7 linked regions of the Homo sapiens genome follow. The protein of the gene in region 3 interacts with the protein of the main gene of each other region in a pairwise test. Each region holds a gene or a part of one and is shown on either strand. Other genes may lie near its edges.

The links.
Region 1: the proteins of FAM161B (region 3) and MEIS3 interact in binary tests that used the Homo sapiens proteins (3 or more experiments, as listed by UniProt).
Region 2: the proteins of FAM161B (region 3) and VPS52 interact in binary tests that used the Homo sapiens proteins (3 or more experiments, as listed by UniProt).
Region 4: the proteins of FAM161B (region 3) and STX1B interact in binary tests that used the Homo sapiens proteins (3 or more experiments, as listed by UniProt).
Region 5: the proteins of FAM161B (region 3) and PPP2R3C interact in binary tests that used the Homo sapiens proteins (3 or more experiments, as listed by UniProt).
Region 6: the proteins of FAM161B (region 3) and BICD2 interact in binary tests that used the Homo sapiens proteins (3 or more experiments, as listed by UniProt).
Region 7: the proteins of FAM161B (region 3) and MID2 interact in binary tests that used the Homo sapiens proteins (3 or more experiments, as listed by UniProt).

The regions. Positions count from the first base shown.
Region 1 is NC_000019.10:47,413,028-47,416,527, reverse strand, and holds part of MEIS3 (homeobox protein Meis3), read left to right. Parts: intron 1-1,426; coding exon 1,427-1,477; intron 1,478-1,661; coding exon 1,662-1,811; intron 1,812-3,500. UniProt on the Homo sapiens protein: Transcriptional regulator which directly modulates PDPK1 expression, thus promoting survival of pancreatic beta-cells. Also regulates expression of NDFIP1, BNIP3, and CCNG1.
Region 2 is NC_000006.12:33,265,377-33,268,876, reverse strand, and holds part of VPS52 (vacuolar protein sorting-associated protein 52 homolog), read left to right. Parts: intron 1-227; coding exon 228-378; intron 379-668; coding exon 669-769; intron 770-879; coding exon 880-1,012; intron 1,013-1,137; coding exon 1,138-1,195; intron 1,196-1,555; coding exon 1,556-1,689; intron 1,690-1,803; coding exon of another isoform or gene 1,804-1,869; exon of another isoform or gene 1,870-2,145; intron 2,146-2,164; coding exon 2,165-2,320; intron 2,321-3,500. UniProt on the Homo sapiens protein: Acts as a component of the GARP complex that is involved in retrograde transport from early and late endosomes to the trans-Golgi network (TGN).
Region 3 is NC_000014.9:73,943,595-73,947,094, reverse strand, and holds part of FAM161B (protein FAM161B), read left to right. Parts: intron 1-489; coding exon 490-809; intron 810-2,209; coding exon 2,210-2,760; intron 2,761-3,500.
Region 4 is NC_000016.10:30,993,639-30,997,138, reverse strand, and holds part of STX1B (syntaxin-1B), read left to right. Parts: intron 1-79; coding exon 80-188; intron 189-382; coding exon 383-456; intron 457-3,500. UniProt on the Homo sapiens protein: Potentially involved in docking of synaptic vesicles at presynaptic active zones. May mediate Ca(2+)-regulation of exocytosis acrosomal reaction in sperm.
Region 5 is NC_000014.9:35,115,491-35,118,990, reverse strand, and holds part of PPP2R3C (serine/threonine-protein phosphatase 2A regulatory subunit B'' subunit gamma), read left to right. Parts: intron 1-2,253; coding exon 2,254-2,381; intron 2,382-3,500. UniProt on the Homo sapiens protein: May regulate MCM3AP phosphorylation through phosphatase recruitment. May act as a negative regulator of ABCB1 expression and function through the dephosphorylation of ABCB1 by TFPI2/PPP2R3C complex.
Region 6 is NC_000009.12:92,730,334-92,733,833, reverse strand, and holds part of BICD2 (protein bicaudal D homolog 2), read left to right. Parts: intron 1-3,500. UniProt on the Homo sapiens protein: Acts as an adapter protein linking the dynein motor complex to various cargos and converts dynein from a non-processive to a highly processive motor in the presence of dynactin.
Region 7 is NC_000023.11:107,828,866-107,832,365, forward strand, and holds part of MID2 (probable E3 ubiquitin-protein ligase MID2), read left to right. Parts: intron 1-3,500. UniProt on the Homo sapiens protein: E3 ubiquitin ligase that plays a role in microtubule stabilization. Mediates the 'Lys-48'-linked polyubiquitination of LRRK2 to drive its localization to microtubules and its proteasomal degradation in neurons.

The sequences.
Region 1 (3,500 bases), on a different chromosome or scaffold from region 3:
TGATTGTTGCCCACGTGCCGTGTGGTACAGCCTAGAGTCTGAGAACGGGACCCATGGCCCGAGTTCAAATCCCAGCTCTGCCACTCACCAGCTCTGTGACCCAGGGCAAGTCACTCTGCATCTCCGTGCCTTGGTGTCCCGTCTGTGAAGTGTGGCTGGTAGTAATGTCTGTCTTGGAGGGCTGCTGTGGGGGTTTAATGAGTGAATGCGATTCAAGTGCGTGGAACAGCACCTGGCACAGAATAGGGCTCAAAAAGTGTCTGATGTTCCATCCGTCAGAAGATCAGCACCTATGCCAAAGTGAGCGCAGGGACTGCTGCCCAAGGAGAGGAGGCTGGGTGCGGCAGCTCACGCCTGTAATGCCAGCACTTTGGGAGGCCAAGGCCAGGAGATAGCTTGAGGCCAGGGATCGAGACCAGCCTGGGCAACGTAGCGAGACCCCACCTCTACAAAAACATTTAATTAGCGGGGTGTGGTGGCATGCACCTGTGGTCTCAGCTACTTTGGAGGCTGAGGCGGGAGGATCGCTTGAGCCCCAAGAGGTCGAGGCTGTAGTGACCCTTGATCAGCTCCACTGCATACCAGCCCAGGCAACAGGGCAAGACCCTGTCTCTCATAGAGAGCTAGAGAAAGAGAAAGAAAGAAAGAAAAAGAGGGCCGGGTGCGGTGGCTCATGCTTGTAATCCCAGCACTTTGGGAGGCTGAGGCAAGCAGATCACCTGAGGTCAGGAGTTCGAGACCAGCCTGACCAAATGATGAAACCCTGTCTCTACTAAAAATACAAAAATTAGCTGGGCACAGTGGTGCACGCCTGTAGTCCCAGCTACTCAGGAGGCTGAGGCAGGAGAATCGCTTGAACCTGGGAGGCAGAGGTTGCAGTGAGCCAAGATCACACCACTGCATTCCAGCCTGGGCAACAGAGCAAGACTCCATATCAAAAAAAAAAAAAAAAAAGAGAGAGAGAGAGAAGAAAGGAGGGAGGAATACCCAGCTTCTCCCATCCTTTGCTCCCCAAGCTCTTGCCAGGGCTTCCTATTGGCCAAACCCTTTGGCAAGTGTTCTGGGAAATGTAGCTTGCAGGTGGGTGGGGCCTGGAGCTGGGGGCCAACAGGCAGAGGATGGGAATGCCAGTCAGCATGGCTCACCTTAGCTCTCCCCGCTTGTGATGGGTCCTTTTTCGTCTCTTGCTTCTCTCAATCTAACATCTGCTCTTTCCTTAATTCTGGGCTGCATCTCTGTTCTCTCTTTCCCCCTTGCACCTGGTGTCTTTGTCTCTCTTTGCTGCATCTCCCTGTCCCTGTCATTTTGTCTCACTCTTTCTGTTTCTCTGTGTCTCCTCTTCCTCCTTCTCTTCCTCTTCCTTCTTCCTCCCTGCTCCCTCCCCCAATTCCCTCTGTCTCCCCCCACCTCCCGCCCACGTTTTCAGATGATCCAGGCCATCCAGGTGCTGCGGTTCCACCTGCTGGAGCTGGAGAAGGTGAGCGCGTCTCACCTCCCCACACCCTCACTTGCCCCTGTCATCCCACCCCCTCTCGTCGCCTCTGCCCCCCACCTTCCAGCTCTCTCCCCACCGGAGTTGAAGCAGAATGCCGCCCCCGTCCCTGAGCACCCCCGCCCTGCCCCCGTGGGTGGCCCCCCCCAGTACCCCGGTGCCCCCCCAGGTCCACGACCTGTGCGACAACTTCTGTCACCGCTACATCACCTGCCTCAAGGGAAAGATGCCCATCGACCTGGTCATCGAGGATCGGGACGGCGGCTGCAGGGAGGACTTCGAGGACTACCCAGCCTCCTGCCCCAGCCTCCCAGACCAGGTGGGCCCGGGACGGGCACCAGGCATCGTCCTGCAGCCACAGCTGTGCCTGGACACCGCATGAGGGCGCATGTGCACTACACAGCCTCAGACGAAGCCACAGTCAGCCTGATCACAGGGCACGCATATGCACACAGCCACACACCCACTACACAACAGCTACGCAGACTCGGATGCGGCTGGGCAACAGTGCACAGACACACGCACACCAGCGGCTGCAGATGCCACCCACAGATTCAGCTACACCCACACAGGTCCACATACAGCCACACCAACTCAGCAACAGCCATTTCTGCTCACAGCCAGACAGTAGCGTCCACCGGGTACTCACACACGCCCCCCAGCCCAGCCATACGACAGCAGCATAGAACACACAGCCGGGTTCCGCACGCCGTTCTCAATTGAGTATGTGTCCACTGCATACACACACCCGCTCCAGCCACACAGATGGACATAGAGCCAAACAGCCCCAGGTACTGCCCGGCAAACTCAGATATAACCACACTTGGGCCCGGACTGACCACGGTGCCCTCTTGCACACACGTGACCCTGGCCACATCACAGTCGGGCTGCAGCCGAGATCACACGCACACACCACTCACAGCCACATGGCCCCAGACTCATCTACGCAGACTTGGAAATAGACTCACAGGCTCAGATGCGGCCACAAAGAATCAAACCCAGGCCGGGTGCGGTGGCTCTCACCTGTAATCCCAGCACTTTGGGAGGCTGAGGTGGGTGGATCATGAGGTCAGGAGATCAAGACCATTCTGGCTAACACGGTGAAACCCCGTCTCTACTAAAAATACAAAAAAAAAAAAAATTAGCTGGGTGTGGTGGCGGGTGCCTGTAGTCCCAGCTACTCAGGAGGCTGAGGCAGGAGAATGGCATGAACCCGGGAGGTGGAGCTTGCAGTCAGCCAGGATCGCACCACTGCACTCCAGCCTGGGCGACAGAGCAAGACTCCATCTCAAAAAAAAAAAAAAAGAATCAAACCCAGCAAAGCAACTCAGTAAGGTGGCACCATCTCAGACGCAGCCTCACTACAGTTTTATCCACTTAGGACACCAGACGGAAAACACACACAGCACAGCCGTGTGGATCCCGACTTGCCACAGCTCCATACAGAGTACAGGGGCAAAGCCTTGAGAAGTCGCATGAGAGCCACACTCAGGCAATCCTACTGTGAACACACCTGGCAATGACATCTTCACAGCACACGCACACCCACTCCACACCACCTCAGATACACTCCTATGACGACCACGCCACAGCCAGACCCACCCAGACACAGTCCCGGAGACATTTTTTTTTTTTTTTGAGATGGAGTCTTGTTTTGTCACCCAGACCGGAATGGAGTGCAGTGGCACGATCTCGGCTCACTGCAAGCTCTGCCTCCTGGGTTCAAGCTATTCCCCTGCCTCAGCCTCCCGGGTAGCTGGGACTACAGGTGCCCACGACCACACCGGGCTAATTTTTGTTCAGTAGAGACGGGGTTTCACCATGTTGGCCAGGCTGGCCTCGAACTCCTGACTTCAAGTGATCCTCCCGCCTCGGCCTCCCAAAGTGCTGGGATTACAGGCATGAGCCACTGCAGCCGGCCAAGTCCTGGAGCCTTATACCCACTCGCACAGGAATCGCAACAACAGTGTCACAAACAGGACAACCAAACCTTCAAACTGCAGTCACA
Region 2 (3,500 bases), on a different chromosome or scaffold from region 3:
CTTTAGGTATGCATTAGGCATCAAAGATTAAGATTAAGAATGATGTAAGATCAGGTGTATAGTGGGGAGGTCCAGGAATAGAAAACTTTGTACATGTGTCCTGACTATATGGTACAATGCAAGGTGGTAGAGATGACAGGGGCTGGAGGTAAGGAGTGTGGTCTGGGTCTGGTTTAGGGATGTCTGGGTCTCCCTTGTAACTCATCCCACCCCTCCCTGCTAACCAGGGCAATTCTGGAGGCTCCAGTGACAGAGCCCAGGTTCTTGGAGCAGCTACAGGAGCTGGATGCCAAGGCAGCCGCAGTCAGAGAGCAGGAAGCTAGAGGCACAGCAGCCTGCGCAGATGTCAGAGGCGTGCTCGATCGGCTCCGGGTCAAGGTGGGAAGTAGGGATGGATACCCTGGAGGCTACTGGAAGCAGCCTTCCCAAGATCTTCACTATGGATTTCCTTGGCAGAGCTCACTGTAGCCTGTCTCCAGGGACTTCACCCTGCCTTTTCTGGGCAGCCCCATTCTTGTCTCTCTGGGTTTCCCTGAAAATCTTGAGAAATACCAAAGAGATATTCACCACCCTTCTGCCTATGTTTACCATTTGTTGCTTCCCCCAGTTCCTCTCATACAGCAAAAGGGTTGCAGCTTCATGCCCTGTGTTTGGTTCCCCACATCTAGGCAGTGACGAAGATCCGAGAGTTTATCCTCCAGAAGATTTATTCCTTCAGGAAACCCATGACCAACTATCAGATCCCCCAGACGGCCCTGCTGAAGTACAGGTCACAACCCCAAGGAAGTGCATGGGATGGCCTTTGAGTTTTTGAGCGGCCTAGTGTGGGCATCTGGTTTCTTGGGAGACAGGTAGACTGACATGTTCCTGACCCCCTAGGTTCTTCTATCAGTTTCTGCTGGGCAATGAACGAGCAACAGCAAAGGAGATCAGGGATGAATATGTGGAGACGCTGAGCAAGATTTACCTGTCTTACTACCGCTCTTACCTGGGGCGGCTCATGAAGGTGCAGGTAAGGTCAGGAGGGAGAGGTATTCCTGGGCACATGGACTGGGAGGAGGGGACATCCCTGGGCAAGGAATATTTTATTGTGTTGTGGGAAGAGACGGTTATCAGTTCTCTTTTCTCTTTCCTTAGTATGAGGAAGTCGCTGAGAAAGATGATCTAATGGGTGTGGAAGATACAGCAAAGAAAGATATCCTAGTACTGGGGAACCCTCATGCCAGGCCTTGAGAGTGGGAGGACTTTCGACTCCAGCCACCAATGCACTGCTCCTTACCTTTTCCTATGGGACTGAAACCTTTTAGAATGTGATGAAAGCTATAGCCTCCCTCCCCAGAAAGATGCACACATTATTTTGACACATAGTTTTGCATATGATTGCAAGGGAGGGAGAGACACCCTGAAGCCCATTCACAGATGTCAGCACGTGGGGCCCTAGTACTGGGAAAGAGGGCTGGCTAGGCCACGTCTGCCTGTCTGGGGTCCCCACAGATAGTGAGTCTTTGGGCCCAGTTATGGTCTCATTGTTTTCCCTGACTCTGACCCATCTTACGATTCTTCTCAAAGCCATCGCTCCGCAGCAGGAACACCATTTTCACCCTAGGAACCCGCGGCTCTGTCATCTCCCCCACTGAACTTGAGGCCCCCATCCTGGTGCCTCACACAGCGCAGCGCGGAGAGCAGAGGGTATGAGGAGGAACAAGCTTCAGTCACGAAAGAGGCTCTGAGCACGGTGGGGAGGGAAGGCCAGACCTCAGGGCAGAGCTTCCCAACCTGCAGGCCCTGTCTTAATCCCCTTAGACTTGGGAGTGGCCTTCTCCAATCACTCCAGCCTGCTGTGATGTGAAAAGAGCTGGGAACCATTGACTTAAGGGCATGCAGAGGGGAGAGACTGGATGAGGGGAATGACAGTCAGAGGCAGGTGTTGAGGTGGATGCAGGAGTAGCAACAGCAGGTGGGTGTAGGCCCTTTTTGTACCCCTATGTTCCCCCACCTTTTCAGTGCCCATTCAGCTTGCTCTTAGACAGCCCGGACCTAGATAGATGCGAAGGGTCTGCCTAGCTCTTATTACTCAGGTTTACTGATTTTCCAGCCATATCCATGGGAAGTCAGTGTTGGGGTCCATCCCTTCTGTTTTTCTTCTTTACTCCTCCTCTCCCAGTATCCATTTGAGGCCCTCTTCCGCAGCCAGCACTACGCCCTCCTAGACAATTCCTGCCGCGAATACCTTTTCATCTGTGAATTTTTTGTTGTGTCTGGCCCAGCTGCACACGACCTGTTCCATGCTGTCATGGGCCGTACACTCAGCATGACCCTGGTAAGACTCCTGTTTCCTGTACCATTCAACACCTTTGTCCCCAGTCTTCATCAGCAGCATAGTGGGGTCATGACTCTGGTAGAACTGAAATCAGGATCGCCTCATTCTAAAATGTCTAAGCCTTGGCTGGGCGTGGTAGTGCACACCCATAATCCCAGCACTTTGGGAGTCCAAGGCAGTAGGATTGCCTGAGCTCAGGAGTTTGAGACCAGCCTGGGCAACAACCTCATCTCTACAAAAAATGAAAAATTAGCCGGGTGTGTGTTGATGTGTGCCTGTGGTCACAGCTACTAAAGATGCTGAGGTGGAAGGATTGCTTGAGCCCAGGAGGTCAAGGCTGCAGTGAGCCATGCACTCCAGAGTGAGACCTGTCTCAAAAAAAAAAAAAAAAAAAAATAGCCAGGTGCAGTGGCTTACGCCTGTAATCCCAGCACTTTGGGAGGCTGAGGCGGGAGGATCACAAGGTCAGGAGTTTGAGACCAGCCTGACCAACATGATGAAACCCTGTCTCTACTAACAGTACAAAAATTAGCCAGGTGTGCGCGGCCTGTAATCCCAGCTACTCGGGAGGCTGAGGCAGGAGGATTGCTTGAACCTGGGAGGAGGAGATTGCAGTGAGCCAAGATTGCGCCATTGCACTCCAGCCTGGGTGACAGAGCGAGACTCCATCTCAAAAAAAAAACTTGTTACTTAGACTTGTCACAGTGTTACTCCCCCATGAAATCCTCAGTGCGTAGGGTCCCTGAGACTACCCCTACTGCTGACCCACAATCAGGCAATAGCACGTGAAAACTGAGGGTCCCCCAAATCTTGGTGCTCAAACCCCTGACCCAAGCTCAGCCCTGAACTCTGCTGTGATAGGCTTGTGATCATAGATCCTGGTGTGGCCAGGTGCAGTGGCTTATGCCTGCAATCCCAGTACTTTGGGAGACCAAGGCAGGAAGGTTGCTTGAGGCCAGGAGTTCGAGACCAGCCTGGGCAATGCGGCAAGACCTTGTCTCTACAAAAAATTTAAAAATAAACTTAACCAGGCATGGTGGTACACACCCATGGTCCCAGTTGCTTGGCAGGCTGAGGTGGGAACATCACTTGAGCCCAGATGTTTGAGGCTGCAGTGAACTATGATTGTACCATTACAATCCAGCCTAGGTGACAAAACAACCTGTCTCTAAAGCCGAAA
Region 3 (3,500 bases):
TCCTTGACAGAGTGCAAATTAGCTAGAACATGAGGAAAGCAGAGGAGTAGAAATAAGGGAAGGGAGAGAAGGAAGATGAGCAAGAAGTAGGTTAAAACCCAAGTAAGGGAGAGTGTGGCCATCATCATGGGCAGGATTCCTGGAGTGCAGGGGTCAGAAAGCCTGGTGTAGGTGAGGTACTCTGTAAAAGCTTACTGCACTGTATGGCATAGGGAACCAACTTCAGCTCTTCACTTCCCTCTCCATCCCTTCAACCAAGCGCACTTCATAGACCAAGTTGTGAAATTTCTTTAGACCAAGAAACACACCTTATTTTTAAAAATTCCTCCCAAAGTGTTGGGATTACAGGTGTGAGCCAGTGCATCTGGCAGACCCCAAATTCTCCCCAGTCCCTAATATACAGAAGCTTATTCAAAGCGAAATTAAGTTATGATTTGAATACCTTTGAAATTATTGTTTGACCCACAGCCTATTTCTATTCTATTTTAGATATTTCCCCCCGAGTCCTTCGCAGACACAGAGGCAGGAGAGGAGCTGTCCGGGGATGGGCTGGTTTTGCCCAGGGCCAGCAAACTTGACGAGTTCCTCAGCCCAGAGGAGGAGATAGATTCTACTTCTGACTCAACTGGGAGCATTTACCAGAACTTACAGGAACTGAAGCAGAAAGGGAGATGGTGTCTGTTGGAGTCTCTCTTTCAGTCTGACCCAGAGAGTGATGAAAACCTCTCTGAAGATGAGGAGGACCTGGAGAGTTTCTTCCAAGACAAGGACAGGGGGATGGTGCAGGTCCAGTGCCCGCAGGCTCTGAGGTAAGGCACTGCAGCTCCACGGCTGCCTCACTCCACACCTCCACACAGGTCACATCGTGTCTCTGGGCTTCATCTTCCTCTGTAAAGCAAAGAGCACTTCTGCAAGTTGCCATTTACTGAGGCTCTAGCTGAGAATCAGCTTTTGGTTCCAAACAGGTGTTCTGATTCCTCCCCAGGAATCCTGAATTACTTTGGGCAACACTTAGTCCAGTGATGCACTGGAATTAATTAAAGGGCAGCCTTTCCTCAGGTGCAGGGGCTCACACCTGTAATTCCAGCACTTTGGGAGGCTGAGGCAGGCGGATCACTTGAGGTCAGGAATTCGAGACCAGCCTGGCCAACATGGTGAAACCCCATCTCTACTAAAAATACAAAAATTAGCCAGTCATGGTGGCGTGTGCCCGTAATCCCAGCTACTCAGGAGGCTGACGCATGAGAATCCCTTGAGCCCAGGAGGTGGTGGTTGCAGTGAGCTGAGATCACGCCACTGCACTCCAGCCTGAGCAACAGAGCAAGACTCTGTCTCAACAAATAAAAATAAAATAAAATTTAAAAATGGGCCGGGCACCGTGTTTACGCCTCTAATTCCAGCACTTTGGGAAGCCGAGGTGGCTGGATCATGAGGTCAGGAGTTCAAGACCAGCCTGGCCAAGATGGTGAAACCCCGTCTCTACTAAAAATATAAAAAAATTAGCCGGGCATGGTGGCAGGTGCCTGTAATCCCAGCTACTCGGAAGGAGAGGCAGAGAATTGCTTGAATCTGGGAGGTGGAGGTTGCAGTGAGCCAAGATCACGCCCAGCTTGGGCAACAGTACAAGACTCCATCTCAAAAAATAAGTAAATAAATAATAAAAAATAAAAAAAAATACAGGGAAGCATTTCCTAAATACACTTTCCCTGAGAATGACAACAAAGTACCTTTATCTTGGTCAAGCCTTAGAAAGTAAATATTGAATGAGATAAAGTGTACATTATCTCATTACTTTATCTTATTTAATATTTACTTTCTCCTCCAATAACCTGGTAAGTAGACATTAATTTTTGCCACTCTACATAGGAGGAAATTGAGGTTTTAACAGAACTTTGCTCAAAGTTTGAAGCAAGATTTAAACCCAGGTCTGTCTGACTCTAAAGCTCTACTCTGCTCATTGTTCTCTCTCTCATATGAAATATTAGAGTGCAAAGTGGCAGTTCTTGGATCAATTCTGAGAAGAGACTTTCCATTAGGGCTGCCAGGATTGTCTGTGGGAAGGTCATGGACATAGAGGCCTGTGGGGCTGTGGTGTTAGGCTGAGCAGCCAGCTGTGACCAGTGGGAAGGGAGGACTGGGGAGGAGGTCTGGAGGGAGCAGGGCCTCCTGACTGCCCTGTCCTCCACTCACAGATCTGCTTTTTTCCCAGGTGTGGCTCCACAAGGCGCTGCAGCTCCCTGAACAACCTTCCCTCCAACATTCCCAGGCCTCAGACCCAGCCACCCTCAGGCTCCCGGCCTCCCTCCCAGCACAGAAGCGTCAGCTCCTGGGCATCATCCATTACTGTCCCTCGGCCATTCCGCATGACGCTGCGCGAGGCCCGGAAGAAGGCCGAGTGGCTGGGCTCACCTGCCTCCTTTGAGCAGGAGAGGCAGCGGGCCCAGAGGCAGGGTGAGGAAGAGGCCGAGTGCCACAGGCAGTTCCGGGCACAGCCTGTGCCTGCACATGTCTACCTGCCCCTCTACCAAGAGATCATGGAGCGCAGCGAGGCCCGAAGGCAGGCAGGGATCCAGAAGAGGAAGGAACTGCTCCTCTCTTCTTTGAAGCCCTTCAGCTTCCTGGAGAAGGAGGAGCAGCTAAAGGAAGCTGCTCGACAGAGAGACTTGGCAGCCACAGCTGAAGCCAAGATCTCCAAGCAGAAGGCCACCAGAAGGATTCCCAAGTCCATTCTGGAGCCAGCCCTTGGGGATAAACTCCAGGGTAAAGACATCCTTGCCACCTTGCTGCCTCCTGCCTCGGGGAACCAATCCCACCATAGGGATTTAGTCAGGGCCCAGGGATCTGCCTGGCTTGGAGATTTGCTGCTTGGGTGGACCCACTAGAGGCTGCACGCTTAGTGCAGGCCATTGGGGAGGGTTAGGTCTGTCTATACAATCAGGACCTGTATGGTGCCAGGAGTGAGAGGTCCCACAGTGTCCCCAAGGCTCGTCCTGTTGACATCTAAGTGAATGCACATGAGGGCCTCTGCACCAGCACAGGTGCAGGAATAGAGAACCAGTGAGACACCTGAGGACCAGCTTGGGCTCATGCCACCACCAGCACACTGCCCTGAGATGCTCCCCCATGGCTCCTTCGTCCTGGTGAGGTAGTGTCAATCGCCGAAATTACCTGGGGGATGATTATTTACACATTTCCAAAAGTATAGCTCCAAATAAGGGGCTCAGGCTTTATTCACTTTTCGGTAGCATGTGCCATGCTCCAGGCACTGTGCCATGGTGAACACACAGACATGGAGTTTGTAGATATGTGAGGAAAACAGATAAAGACAAATACATACAAATGTGGCGAGTTATTTACAAGGATTAAAAGGGGAAGCATGGGAGCATATATCAAAGGGACCTAACCCGGGGATTGGTGAAGCAAGGGAGCAGTTAGGGAAGGTCCCCTGAGAAAGTGGGCCCTGGGGCTGAACTGAAGGAGGGGCGAAGAGGGAGGAGAAG
Region 4 (3,500 bases), on a different chromosome or scaffold from region 3:
CCTCGGTCTCTGCTCCCTGACTCCCTCCCTGATCCCTGACTACCTCCCTGATCCGTCTGTCCCCCCACCCCCACCGTAGCACTCCACACTGTCCCGGAAGTTCGTGGAGGTAATGACCGAATATAACGCGACCCAGTCCAAGTACCGGGACCGCTGCAAGGACCGGATCCAGCGGCAACTGGAGATCAGTGCGTGTGCCCCCCACCCCAGGACCCCGAACTCCTTGAGGCTGCCCAAGCCCCCTTCCAGGCATTTCCTCTCTGGAGGGGGCCCCTGGCTTAAGGCGGCGTGGGAGGGTGGGCCCCAGGTCCCCGCCCCATCACCCCACCTCAGGCCCCCAGGCTGTCCCAGCCCCCGAGCAGGGAGTCCTTTCTTCCCGCAGCTGGAAGGACCACCACCAACGAAGAACTGGAAGACATGCTGGAGAGCGGGAAGCTGGCCATCTTCACAGATGACGTGAGCCGCGGGTGGGGCGGGCTCTGCTTTTGGAAAATTTTTGCCTCCCCTCCCTAAGTTCAGGTTGAACTAAGGTCCTAAGTCCACCCTGGAAAAATGAGCAGCGGGAAGCCTGAGCCGGGAACTGGGGAATTCCATGGGAGCGGAGCAGGAAGGCACCCCCATCAGATGACGGAGTCGTTCGTGTGCCAGGCACTGTTCTAAGCACTTTCCATCTTCACATTCACCCACCAACTCATTTAATACTCACACATCCCCTTCGAGGAAACCCCATTTCACAGATGAGGAAAACTGGCCCAGAGAGATGAAATCACTTGGCAAGATCTCAGAGCGAGGGAGAGGGCCAGGACTTGAATCCTGTCTAGTTTCAGAGTCAGAACTCTCGAGCCCTAGGATACACGACATACTCTGCTACTGAAGCAAGTCGTTTCACCAGAGAACTGATTTGCCTACATTAAAAGAAATTTTTTTTAATTAAAAAAAACTTTTTTTCTTTTTTTTTTCTTCAAGACGGAGTTTTGCTCTTGTCACCCATGCTGGAGTACAGTGGCGAGATTTCAGCTCACTGCAACCTCCGCCTCCTGTGTTCAAGCGATTCTCCTGCCCCAGCCTCCCGAGTAGCTGGGATTACAGGCGCCCACCACTCGGCCTAAAAAAACCTTTTTTTGTAGAGATGGGGGGTCTTCCTCTGTTGCCCAGGCTGGTCTCAAACTTCTGGGCTCGAATAATCTGCCTGCCTCAGCCTCCCAAAGTGCTGGGATTACAGACGTGAACCACCGAATCCAGCCTAATTTGCCTACATTTTGAATATTTTTTTTAAAACAAGTTTTAGTTTTGCTTAGGTTTTGTCCCCTGTGCTGCCCTTGTCCTTTTACATATGAAAGGATGGGCTGGCCGGGCCCAGTGGCTCATGCCTGTAATCCCAGCACTTTGGGAGGCCAAGGCAGGTAGATCACCTGAGGTCAGGAGTTCGAGACCAGCCTGGCCAACATGGCAAAACTCTGTCTCTATTAAAAATACAAAAATTAGCCGGGCATGGTGGCACGTGCCTGTAATCCCAGCTACTAGGGGGCTGAGGCAGGAGGATCACTTGAACCTGGGAGGCGGAGGTTGCAGTGAGCCGAGATCTTGCCACTGCACTCCGGCCTGGGCAACAGACTGACACTCTGTCTCTTAAAAAAAAAAAAAAGAAAGAAAGGATGGGCTTTCCCCGAACCTAGTTCTTGTTTCTCTCAGTGGACTTTTGCCCCGGCCTGCCCACTCCTGTCTCCGTTTCTGTTTCTGGTGGCAAAATGACTCTGGTTAAGGGTTCTAGACCAGGTTTAAAGGATGCGCTATGACTGTCTTAAAAGTTTTCAGCTCATTGTTATTTGGAGAACTGATCTTTGTTGAAAACGCATTGAGCAGCCCGGTGTGGTGGCTCACATCTGTAATCCCAGCATTTTGGGAGGCCAAGGAGGATGGAGGGCTTGAGCCCAGGAGTTCGTAGACCAGCCCGGGCAACAAAGTGAGACCCCCATCTCTACAAAAAAAATGTTTTTTTGATTTAAAAAACAATTTCTTTTAATGTAGGCAAATCAGTTCTATGGTGAAACCTGCTTTAATTAGCCAGGCATGGTGGCGTGTGCCTGTGGTCCCAGCTACTCGGGAGGCTAAGGTGGAAGGATTGCCTGAGTACAGGAGGTCAAGGCCGCAGTGAGCTATGATAGCACCACTGCACTCCAGCCTAGGTGACAGAGCAAGAACTTGTCTCAACAAAGAACAAAAACCAAAAAAAAAAAAAAAAAAAAGACGGGGAGACTGAACACTGTCCAAACAGCCATTGTATGATTTCGGCTTATAGAATGGTCATAGGATGAGCAGGAGATGAGGGGAGAGGGAGTCTGGGCCTTGACTGCTGAAGGGAAGGTGTGGAGCCTTGGGTAGTGGGGAGCCATGGCAGGCTGTAGAGCAGAGGAGTGGCTCAATGTGGTAAGAACAGTGAGTAATTTGGGAAGTGAGTCACCTGGCTGAGGCTGGGTGTTTGTGGAGAGGAGGCATATCTGACTGTGGGTCACGGTCTCTTCCCCACTGGCTTTCTTTTTTTTTTTTTTTCAGCATGGTCTCACTCTGTGGCCCATGTTGGAGTGAAGTGAAGCAATCATAGCTCACTGCAGCCTCGACCTCCTGGGGTCAGGCAATCCTTCTGCCTCAGTTTCCTGAGTAGCTGGGACCACAGGCGCCACCATGCCCAGCTAATTTCCTTTTTTTTTTTTTTTTTTGATAGAAACAAAGTCTCACTATGTTGCCCAGGCTGGCCTCAAATTCCTGGGCTCAAGTGATCCTCCTGCCTTGGCCTCCCAGAGTACTGGGGTTACAGGCCTCTCCCTACTGACTCTTTTTTTTTTTTTTGAGACGGAGTCTCGCTCTGTGGCTCAGGCTGGAGTGCAGTGGCGCAATCTCGGCTCACTGCAAGCTCCGCCTCCCGGGTTCACGCCATTCTCCTGCCTCAGACTCCCAAGTTGCTGAAACTACAGGCGCCCACCACCACACCCGGCTAATTTTTTGTATTTTTAGTAGAGACGGAGTTTCACCGCATTAGCCAGGATAGTCTTGGTCTGCTGACCTCGTGATCTGCCCGCTTCAGCCTCCCAAAGTTCTGGGATTACAGGCATGAGCTACCTACTGTGCCCAGCCCTGACTCTTTTTTTTTTTTTGAGATGGAATTTCACTCTTGTTGCCCAGGCTGGAGTGCAGTGGCGTGATCTCAGCTCACTGCAACCTCTGCCCCCCCGGGTTCAAGCAATTCTCCTGCCTCAGCCTCCTGAGTAGCTATGATTACAGGTGCCCACCACCACACCAGGCTAATTTTTATATTTTTAGTAGAGACGAGGTTTCGCCATGTTGGCCAGGCTGGTCTCAAACTTCTGACCTCAGGTGATCTACACACCTCCCAAAGTGCTGGGATTACAGGTGTGAGCCATCGTGCCTGACCAATGTGTACATATTAACTCACTCAGTCTTCACAACCACCCTGTGAGGTGGGCAGTGTTATGATCCACATT
Region 5 (3,500 bases), about 39 Mb from region 3:
TCTTCATAGGAAAACTTCTCAAAGAAGTTACCTGTACTTGGCTGGGCGCAGTGGCTCATGCCTGTAATCCCAGCACTTTGGGAGGCTGAAGTGGGTGGATCACCTGAGGTCAGGAGACAGACCAGCCTGGCCAACGTGGTGAAACGCTCTCTCTACTAAAAATACAAAATTTAGCCGGGCATTGTGGCAAGTGTCTGTAATCCCAGCTACTCAGGAGGCTGAGGCAGGAGAATCACTTCAACCCAGGAGGTGAAGTTTGCAGTGAGCCAAGATCGCGCCACTGCCCTCCAGCCTGGGTGACAGTGAGACTCAGTCTCGGAAAAAAAAAAAAAAAAAAGGAAGGTACCTGTACTTGTACTTTGTGTGCTTTCTTGACCCCTTAACTCTTAAACCCACTGCATTCTTTTAGCAGATATTTATTGCATGCCTGTTTTGTGCCAAGTACCGTTGTAGCTTATAGCAGAACACAAAAAAATCTCTGTCTTTGTAGAACTTACACTTTAGTGTGGAGAGAAATAATAAAATAATAAGTAAATTATATAGGTTGTACAGCACCTGCGTAAGTCTGGTTCCTTCATCAGTGTACTAGATCCTATCCTTTGTAGTAGATTCCATTTTTGCCTGCTGAAGGATGTACTCTTGCAGTTGTCCCTTCTCCTGTATCATCAGTTTTTCTTTAATCATTCCCATCAGCATATAAACATGCTGGTATTTCTCCCATCTTAAACTTTCTTGACTTAATTTCCACCTCTAGCCATTCCTCATTTTTCTGTTCCCCTTATAGCAATATTTGTTAAAACAGTTGTTGGTTAAATCTGTACTCGTCTCGAATTCCTGCTTGTCAAGAATCATCAGTGACTGCTATATTGTTAACTTCAGTGGTCAGTTGTCAGTCTTGACTTTGCTTGAAAAATTTTGCAGTTTTCTACAACAGCACTGAGCCATAGTAAAGAAATTAACTTATAGGTTTGGTCTAAGGTTAAAAATTAACATAATAGGCCAGGCATGGTGGCTCATGCCTGTAATCCCAGCACTTTGGGAGGCCGAGGTGGGCAGATCACCTGAGGTCAGGAGTTCAAGACCAGCCTGACCAACATGGAGAAGCCCCATCTCTACTAAAAATACAAAATTAGCCAGGCGTGGTGGCACATGCCCGTAATCCCAGCCACTCAGGAGGCTGAGGCAGGAGAATCCCTTGAACCTGGGAGGCGGAGGTTGCCGTGACCCGAGATCGTACCATTGCGCCCCAGCCTGGGCAACAAGAGTGAAGCTCCATCTCCAAAAAAAAAAAAATTAACAGATGCAGCAGAAATGCAGTCATAAAAGGAATTCAAGGAAACAATTACAGGCTTGTTGGGAAGGAAATGAGACCAGAAAGAGTAAAATAACTTTTGAGAAAATAGATCACAGAATTCAAGAGCTCAGTGAGGCTGAAGTGGAAATGGTATGGCAGTGAGGTTTTGAATTACCAGAAAGGATGATCTGAGAGTATATTTGAGCTTAAGATTTCAGAAAGGGATCAAGTAAAATCTGTGATCTTGTCATAGAACCAAATGGCAGAATGAACTAGAGGTGAAAGTCTTTGGAGTTGCAGGACCCATGGTCACCCACATAAATGTTTATTCATCCTAAATGATTGCAGGACCTTGTGAAGAACACTGTGTACCAGTCACCATAGTCCACAAATAAGTGGGGAGGAATTGGCTGAATGAGACAGCCACGTGCCAATAGCAGGCGAGTTGCAGGGTAATAGAGCCCTGAGTTTTGAGCTTCAGACAGAGGATGAGTTTTTTTGTTTGTTTTCTCTACATTAGGTAGAGAAACAGTGATTATGAGGCTGAAACTCCATGAGGTCAGGGGCTGGGGCTGTCTTGCTCACCCCTCATTCCGTGTCTACTACAGCGTTCTCTGTACATAGTAGGTGCTCAGTAAATTCTTTTCATTGAATGAATTAGGAGCACTCTACAGAGTTCTGTAGGAGAGGTAATTTGAGGAAGAGACTAGCTTTAGCGATAAACAGAAGTAGAGGGAGCATGAGAAATGGTTGAAGATGTAGAGGAGGCTGCTTCAGTAGAGGGTAGTGATTCTTGGTATTTCAGAAAAGTTAATATGCTCAGTGTCTAAGCACAATTGTGAAGGCCTTTTTGGCACTGCAACTATTTTAATTAAACTATTAATATAATATATAGGATGACCTGAGTAAAAGTACTGCTTGATTTTAAAAGTGCTCCCCTTAATCTGTTTTGTTACCAGAAAAAAAAAGTGAACAAGAATTAAAAGATGAAGAAATGGATTTATTTACAAAATATTACTCCGAATGGAAAGGAGGTAGAAAAAACACAAATGAATTCTATAAGACCATTCCCCGGTTTTATTATAGGGTAAGTAGTGTCTAATCAAATGTCCTGCAGAGTTTAAAAATGAAATATAATTTTTGGCAAGGCAGGGTGGCTCATACCTGTAATCCCAACACTTTGGGAGGCTGAGGCGGGAGGATCACTTGAGTCCAGGAATTTGAGACCAGCCAGGGCAACATAGCAAGATCCCATCTCTAAAAGAAATTTTTTAAAAAATAGCTGGACATGGTGATGCATGCCTGTAGTCCTAGCTTCTCAGGAGGCTGAAGCAGGAGGATTACTTGAGCCCAGGAGATCGAGGCAGCAGTGAGCCGTGATTGTGTCACTGCACTCCAGCCTGGGTAACAGAGTTAGACCCTGTCCTCCCCACCCCCAGAAAAAAAAGTAGTTTTAAAAATAGGACCAGAATTTTATGTTTTAAAAATAGAGAATTATATTTTAAATTTTATATATTATTTTATTGTAATTGATCTTATCACTATTATAAAACATTTTGAGCCCAATAAAATCCCAAGTTTAGATTTAAGTGGGTATGTAAACACAAAGTTGTTAAACTGTGGGCTTTTTCTTTCTGATTTTTATTATAGATATTAGTAGTAAGTATTCTATTGGATTATGTTATCAGGTATACACTTTGTTATAAAGTTTTAAAATTTTGCTCAAGGCTAAACCGAAAAATAGATTATGGAAAACCTAAAGAATTTCACTTGAGGCCAGGCATGGTGGCTCATGCCTGTAATCCCAACACTTTGGGAGGCCAAGGTGGGTGGTGGATCATGAGGTCAGGAGTTCGAGACCAGCCTGACCAACATGGTGAAACCCTGTCTCTACTCAAAATACAAAAATTAGCCAGGCGTGGTGGCGCGCGCCGGTAATCCTAGCTACTCAGGAGGCTGAGGCAGGAGAATCACTTGAACCCAGGAGGTGGAGGTTGTAGTGAGCCCAGATCGCGCCACTGCACTCCAGCCTGGGTGACAGAGCAAGGCTCTGTCTCAAACAAACAAACAAAAAAGGAATTTCACTTGATTATTTTTTCCTTGTGCCAAAACTCTGAAAATGGCTATGAAGGGACGTATAGACAAAATAGACCTTAAGAAAAGCTATTCATGGTAGGGTCACTGCACTCCAGCCTGGGTGATAGAG
Region 6 (3,500 bases), on a different chromosome or scaffold from region 3:
CGCCACGCCTGGCTAATTTTTTGTATTTTTAGTAGAGACGGGGTTTCACTGTGTTAGCCAGGATGGTCTCGATCTCCTGACCTCGTGATCTGCCCGCCTCGGCCTCCCGAAGTGCTGGGATTACAAGCATGAGCCACCGCACCCAGCCTATCTTCTGAAAGTTTTATAGTTTTAGTTCTTATATTTAGGTATTTGATTCATTTTGAGTTAATTTTTGTGTATAATGTGAGGTAGGGGTTCAGCTTCATTATTTTGCATATATGTATCTACTTGCCCCAGCATCATTTGTTGAAAAACTTTTTTTTTTTTCCTCTGTCGTCCAGGTTGGAATACAGTGGCGTGATCTCGGTTCACTGCAACCTCTGCCTCCTGGGTTCAAACCATTCTCCTGCCTCAGCCTCCCAAGAAGCTGGGATTACAGGCACCCGCCACCACGCCCAGCTAATTTTTTTTTATTTTTAGTAGAGACGAGGTTTCACTATGTTGGCCAGGCTGGTCTCGAACTCCTGACCTCGTGATCTGCCCGCCTCGACCTTCCAAAGTGCTGGGATTACAAGCATGAGCCACCGTGCCTGGCCGAAAAACTATTCTTTGACATCAAATTATTTTTGTACCCTTGCCAAAAATCAATTGACCATATATATGAGGTTTTATTTCTGGACTCTATTCTATCCCGTTGGTCTCTGTATCTATCTTTACACTAGTACCACATTGTTTTGATCACTGTAGCTTTGTATTAAGTTTTGAAATTGTGAGTTCTCTCACGTTGTTATTCCCTTTCAATATTGTTTTAGCTCTTCTAGGCCCTTTGCAATTCCATATGAATTTGAAAATCACCTTTTCCATTTCTGCTAAAAAGGCTTTGGAATTTTGGTAGGGATTGCATTGAATTTCAAGTTAATTATCTTTTAAAGAGATTTAAATAAGAAAAATAAGTACTTTATATTTGCCTATTTAATTATCATTTCTTCCATGTAGATAAAGATTTCCATATGGTATTATTTTTCTTCTGCCTGAAGGATTTTATTTAGCATATCTTTAAATACCAATGCATATCTGCTGTTGATAAATTCTTTCAGCTTTTGTATCTCTAAAGTATTTCACCTCTATTTGTGAACAGTTTTCAGTGAGTATAGCATTCTAGTTAAGTTTTTTTGTTTTGTTGTTTAAAAGATGTTGTTCCACTATCTCCTGGCTTGTTAGAGAAATCAGCTGTCATTTATCTTTGCTCCTCTTGAGTCATGTATCCTTTTTCTTCTGGCTGATTTAAATATTTTTATTATATAATTGGTTTTAAACAATTTTATATTATGCCTTGGTGTAGTTTGCTTCATATTTCTTGTGCTTGGTGTTGACAAGCTGCTGATATCTGTGGGTTTATAATTTTCATCAAATTTGGAAAATTTTCAGCTATGATTTATTTCTTCAATTACTTTTTCTATTTTCCCCTTTTTCTCCTTTGGGTACTCCAATTACTCCTTACATAAGGCTTCTTGAAATTGTGTCATACTTCATACTTCACCAATGCTCTGTTTGAGTCTTGCTTTTGTCTTTTAGCCTTTTTTTCTCTGTGTTTCATTTTGGATAGTTTGCTGTGGTTTTTCAAGTTGACTGATCTTTTCTTCTGCATTGTTTTATCTGCTGTGAATCCCATCCACTGTACTTTTCGTCTCTAGAAGTTCTATCTGGATCTTTTTCTGTCTTCCTCATTTGTGCGCCTTTGCCTGCTCAGTGGTAAGTGACGGGATGCCAGCCAGTGGACCTCACCTGTTGGGAGATGGATGTTTTTGTATTCCTTCATGTGTTCTTGAGCTTTGTTCTGGGATGTAGTTAAGTGACTTGGAATCAGATTGATCCTTTCAGGTTTTGTCTTTATGCTTTGCTCTGTGGTATCAGAGCAGATTTAATCCAGACTAATTTTTTCAGGCCCTGGGAGTGCTCCCCAGCTGCCTGTGCATCAGGAGGGCTCTCCTCTGCTGTTGGGAGCAGGTACTGTTTTTGGCTGGTATAAATGGTGGGGATTGCTTTCTCTGCCCCCTCAGTGGTCCTTCAGTGACTTCTTCAGCTCTGTGCTCCCTGGTCCTCAGTGGAGATTCTGGCCCTGTGTGCAGGTCTGCCTAGCTTGGCTGCCCTGCTGCCATCTTCCGCCATCTTCCAGTCCCTCCTTGACAGGGTCTGCCACGCCTTGCCTCAGTCTCCCATTTTTCCATGGCTGGGAAGTTCTTTTGGTGGAGGGGGCTCCTGGAACTCCCCTCCTCCTGTCTCTCACTATCTAGTGCCCATGATGTGAAAACCACTGCTTATTATTTATTTATATTCTATCATTGCCTGGTTTTTTTCTTTTTCTTTTTTTTTTTTAAGTTTTCACACAGAAGGTAGTTCTAATTTCTGCAACAATCTCATCTTGGCTGTACGCGGAAGTCTGTATCTCAGTGTGTTTGAAAAGCTGCCCAGGAGTGTTTTGGGCCCCAGGCTGGGAGCTTAAGCAGAGGAAAAGATCCAGGGCTCAGGCCAGGAGGCTAGGACTTGAATGTCGTGTCATGGCATTTAGCTGTCATACCTGGAGGAAGCTTCTGAGGTGATGTCTGCATCCCCAGCTCCAGGCTCGTGGGTGTGTTCTGAGCAGCCATGTGTGCTGGACCCTTCATTTGGGTCCCTCCTGCTTGTCAGGAGGCCCAGATGGTCTGGCGCTGCCCATGCCGCCTGCAGCCGGCGGGCCCTTCACCCAATGAGGGACTTGGGGCCTGGCTGCCACTTGGGTGGGGAGCCTGCAGCTGGGGCCAATTCCATGTCCGGTTTCCCTTCTTGTGGCCCGGGGTGGCTGGCCAGGGTGGATGAGGTGCTGTGTAGACATTATGATTTGGACCTTCCTTGGGACTAGGATAAGGAAGAACAGAGCAGAAATCACAGAGCTGACCCGATTGCCTTGAAGAAAAGCGGACATCTTCCACGTAGTGGGTGTTGTGTTGATGGGTGGGGGCAGGTGAGCAAGACCCAGCCTCCTCAGGAGTGTGGGTGCCATAGACATCTGTGCATCCGCAGCAGGAGTGTCCATGTCAATCCCGAGTCCCCCCGTGCAGTCCCATTGCCAGCACCAGTCTTCCTGCTGGGCTGTGTTGTCCTGTTAGCCTTGTTTAGGGGTGTCCCCCGCAACACCACGAGACACACACACACAACACATACATCACAGCACATGTCACCACACCTGCCATAGCACATGTGTGCTCTTCCAGGCAGGATCCTGTGATCCTCACAGTGCTGTAAGATCAATCAGTCTGTCTTCCCCTTGAGTCCCCTGTTGGTCCCATGAGAGTCTATACTCAGACTAGACCCTGGTTTCTTTTACCAGTCTCCTGTTGGGACGAAATGAGTTACTCTTTGTTTTGATTTCTTGAAATTAGAAACTGTCCTGCTCAGTAACATCCTTATTCATGGTTTTTTACATTTTCCCTATTTTCTTGGACTGAATTCTTAGATTTAATATTAAATAGTAAATGAGT
Region 7 (3,500 bases), on a different chromosome or scaffold from region 3:
AAACCCTCAGCATTATACTTTTTTTTTCCTTTGAGACGAAGTCTCGCTCTGTCACCCAGGCTGGAGTGCAGTGGTGTGATCATGGCTTGCTGCAGTCTTGACCTCTCTGGCTCAAGCAATCCTCCCATCTCAGCTTCCTTAGTAGCTGGGACTATAGGCACACACCATCACACCCGGCTAATTTTTGAATATTTTGTAGAGACAGGATTCACCATGTTTCCCAGTCTGGTCTCAAACTCCTGAGCTTAAGGGATCCACCTGCCAAGTCCAAGTGTTGGGATTACAGGTGTGAGCCACCACACCCAGCCAACATTATACTTTTCAAAGAAAGCACTTCCTTTACCTTTTACTGAGTTAGTGGATTGACTGGGTGTAAGCAGGAATCTTAGCTTACTGAAAACCTTTAGCTTCCCACCCCCAGAGCCAAATCGTATCATTGTACGTAGGTCCTAAATCTGGTTTTTCTCCAATACATGTTCAACTGAATGAAAACATACATGCAACTAGGCATACAGAGTAATAATGATCAATTTAAGTTGAGGCTTGAATCATTTCTAATGCACTCTAACCTAACAATCTGAGTCAGACTAATTTGAAGACATAACCTCACCCATTTTTTAGCCTATATGGGGGCAGTTTGTTAGCTTCTAATGAAAAGTGTCATAAATAATTTGGGGTATGGCTATATAAGCATGATTAGCACCTAGTAGCAGAGTCAACAATATTAAGCACCTATAATGTGCAGAGGACCTCTGCTGATTGGGCTGAGGCCCCAGATTTAGCCCAGTATTTTGGCCTCCTGCTTGTTCCACGCCAAACTCCATACTTGCAACTCCAGGATTAGGTCAGGGAGGGGCTGTGCAGGACATGGGTAGAGGCTAGGGACATGAAAGGGTGGTTGTGTCCCTCTTATTTGTTTTCATGACTACTAGAATTCTCGTCTGGCATGTTGCACCCTGCAAGGCCACCTCTGGGAAGTACTCCTGTAAATCAGAGTGACTTGATTGCTTTATGAACATATCATCTGAATGGTGCAAATTGATTTAGATAAAACTGATTTAGTTAATCCCTTCCCTAAGAGCAGGGAAACTTGCTTCAACTCGCAGATCCTAAAGTGGTGCCAGTGGAGTCTCACAATTGCATCCAAATATTGCTCTGAGTAGTGAGCCTGTCCATTCCTTCATCCCTCCTCCCATAAAATCTGCTGACACCACAATAATTGACAAGGGAACTACACAAGGAGTATGTCTGTCTTCATCATTCAGCAAACCTCATTGGCTTGGTGAAGAGGAGAGAATGTTGTCTTCTCATTCTATCCCATAGAACTCAAGCTCTGTCTTTTCAGACAGGGACACAGAGCCCTTAAAAGGGTGAAGACAGGGCTGTGGGCACAGAATATGTCTCAAATGGCTGCTCTTGGAAATACCTGCTTGGTCTTGTGTGTGTCTGCCATTCAATCTTTATGAATCTTGGTAATATCCTTGCTGTTAGGCCATGGGGCTCGGCTGCTAGTAGAGGCCAGGGGGTGCTCCATTTCCATTTAGCATTAAGTTTTTGTCCTCTCTTTGGCACAAAAGCGAGAATGAAGCTCTGTGTTCATGAAGCACTCCTTACTCATTAAGCTGGGTGTCTTGACTTAGAACATTGCATCATCAAAATATGAGATGTAACATGTTGATACTGGATATACAACAGTTTTGGATAATTCAAAATTGTTTACATTTTGATAAATGAAATTTTGGTACCAAGATGGTGTTGCACTAACATCTGTACTTCAGGTCTCTCAAAAAATATTGTGTTCATCACTAAGCAGTGTACAGAAGAGACTAGAAAAGTGTTTCTCAACTGGTGTGTTGGGTCATGCTAGCAAGTGAGAAGACCAGATGAGTGGTGTTGAGACAAGAAATTCCAGCTGTAATTATCTTCTTGTACAGATAGCTAATCTACTTTTTATTTACCTCCTCAATATATTAAATATGTTCCTTTCTCCACTTTCATGTATTAAAACTCTGCTAAGAGTTTTCTGTGGGCTTAAGTAGTCTGTGGCTGTTTCTATTTGTTTCTCTCTTTCTGTCTTCCCCTTCTTTATGACCATAGGCAGATATAATCCTTTTGATGATGAATCTCCCAGATGCTGAGTTTTCTTTTAGAAATTCTATAAATTACTAAGACTACTAGATAGTATAAGATGCTTAAAGTGTGGGTGGTGGAGGGATTTTGAGTAATGTGCCAGCATCCCATTATTTCCTTTTCCTTGTGGGATTCACCTGAATACACTCTAGGATGCTGGTTCAGCCTAAGTGGGTTGGCAAAGTATCATTTGTAAGCATTATCCTACTTGGGTTCTGGCCTCCCTGCAGAGCTCTGGCTGCCTGACCTTGGGCTTTGTCTCAGCTTCCTTCCCGTAGGTCAGACTCCGCTGGTTGATGAACGGCATCCCCAGTCTCTGGATCATCGTCTTACTGAGACCGAACAATCTGATAACAAACCCATCATACAATCTGAAATCGTCCTGAAACATGAAATCCCAGTATTTGCAATTTGCCTGGATAGGAGCATAATGTATGGGCATGGCAGACAATGCTAATTCATGACAGTGAAGTGTCTTAATATATACAGCACAGAGATAGAAAAATGGTTTACGATCCAGATCCTTGATCACTTTGTGTATAGCCCTTTGTTCAGTGTTGCTAGGATCCATGTGGTTCCCAGGGAAGTAGAAGCTTGATTTCAAATAGGCCTCTGTTCTCTGTCCCTTGTTTCTGACCTGAACTTGGGGTCCTCTCAGCCTAACATTCAATAACATGTCTTACATACATATATTGCCATTTTTATTGTGTAGATGACTGCCTGTCCAGGTGAACCACTGAACATTTAAAAACTTACAAATATTTTGTTGGGTAACAGAGGTTAGGAAAAGCAATCCTAGAGGAGATGGAAAGCTGTACCAGTAGTCATAGGTAAATTAAGTTTGTTTTCCATTTGTTCCTCAACCCTGCAACTGCCAGTGTAATCTGCATTAAGATAAAGGTGTTATGAATTGTATTTAGGATTCCTGTCAATTATCATGTGTTACCTTGGCAAATCCATTTGTTGGTTACTTGGATTAACCTTTTGGGTTTGTAGCAGATTTAGGACTTCTAGTTCTGCTATTTTGATACTCATTTTAATGTTTATATGATGACTATCTTGTATAAAATACTCAATGTTTGGATTTAAAAACTAATTATTGAAAAGAACATACATTAATTCCATGTACTATAAAATATTAAGTAGGCTTTAATAACCTATTAGACAGGAGCTGGCACTGGTGCTCTCTGCCAGTCGGTAATCAGCCTCCAGTTCTGAGTTCTCCCTGTGCAGGATGAAAGTTTAAGAGAAAAGAAAAGAGACAGCCCTTCACTTGGAGAGGGGTGGGGATCCCAGTCTAAAAGTGAAGACATGAGCATAACAAATACCATGATCAGTCCCATGATCTTCCAGAAGTCTTGTGGAGGAGT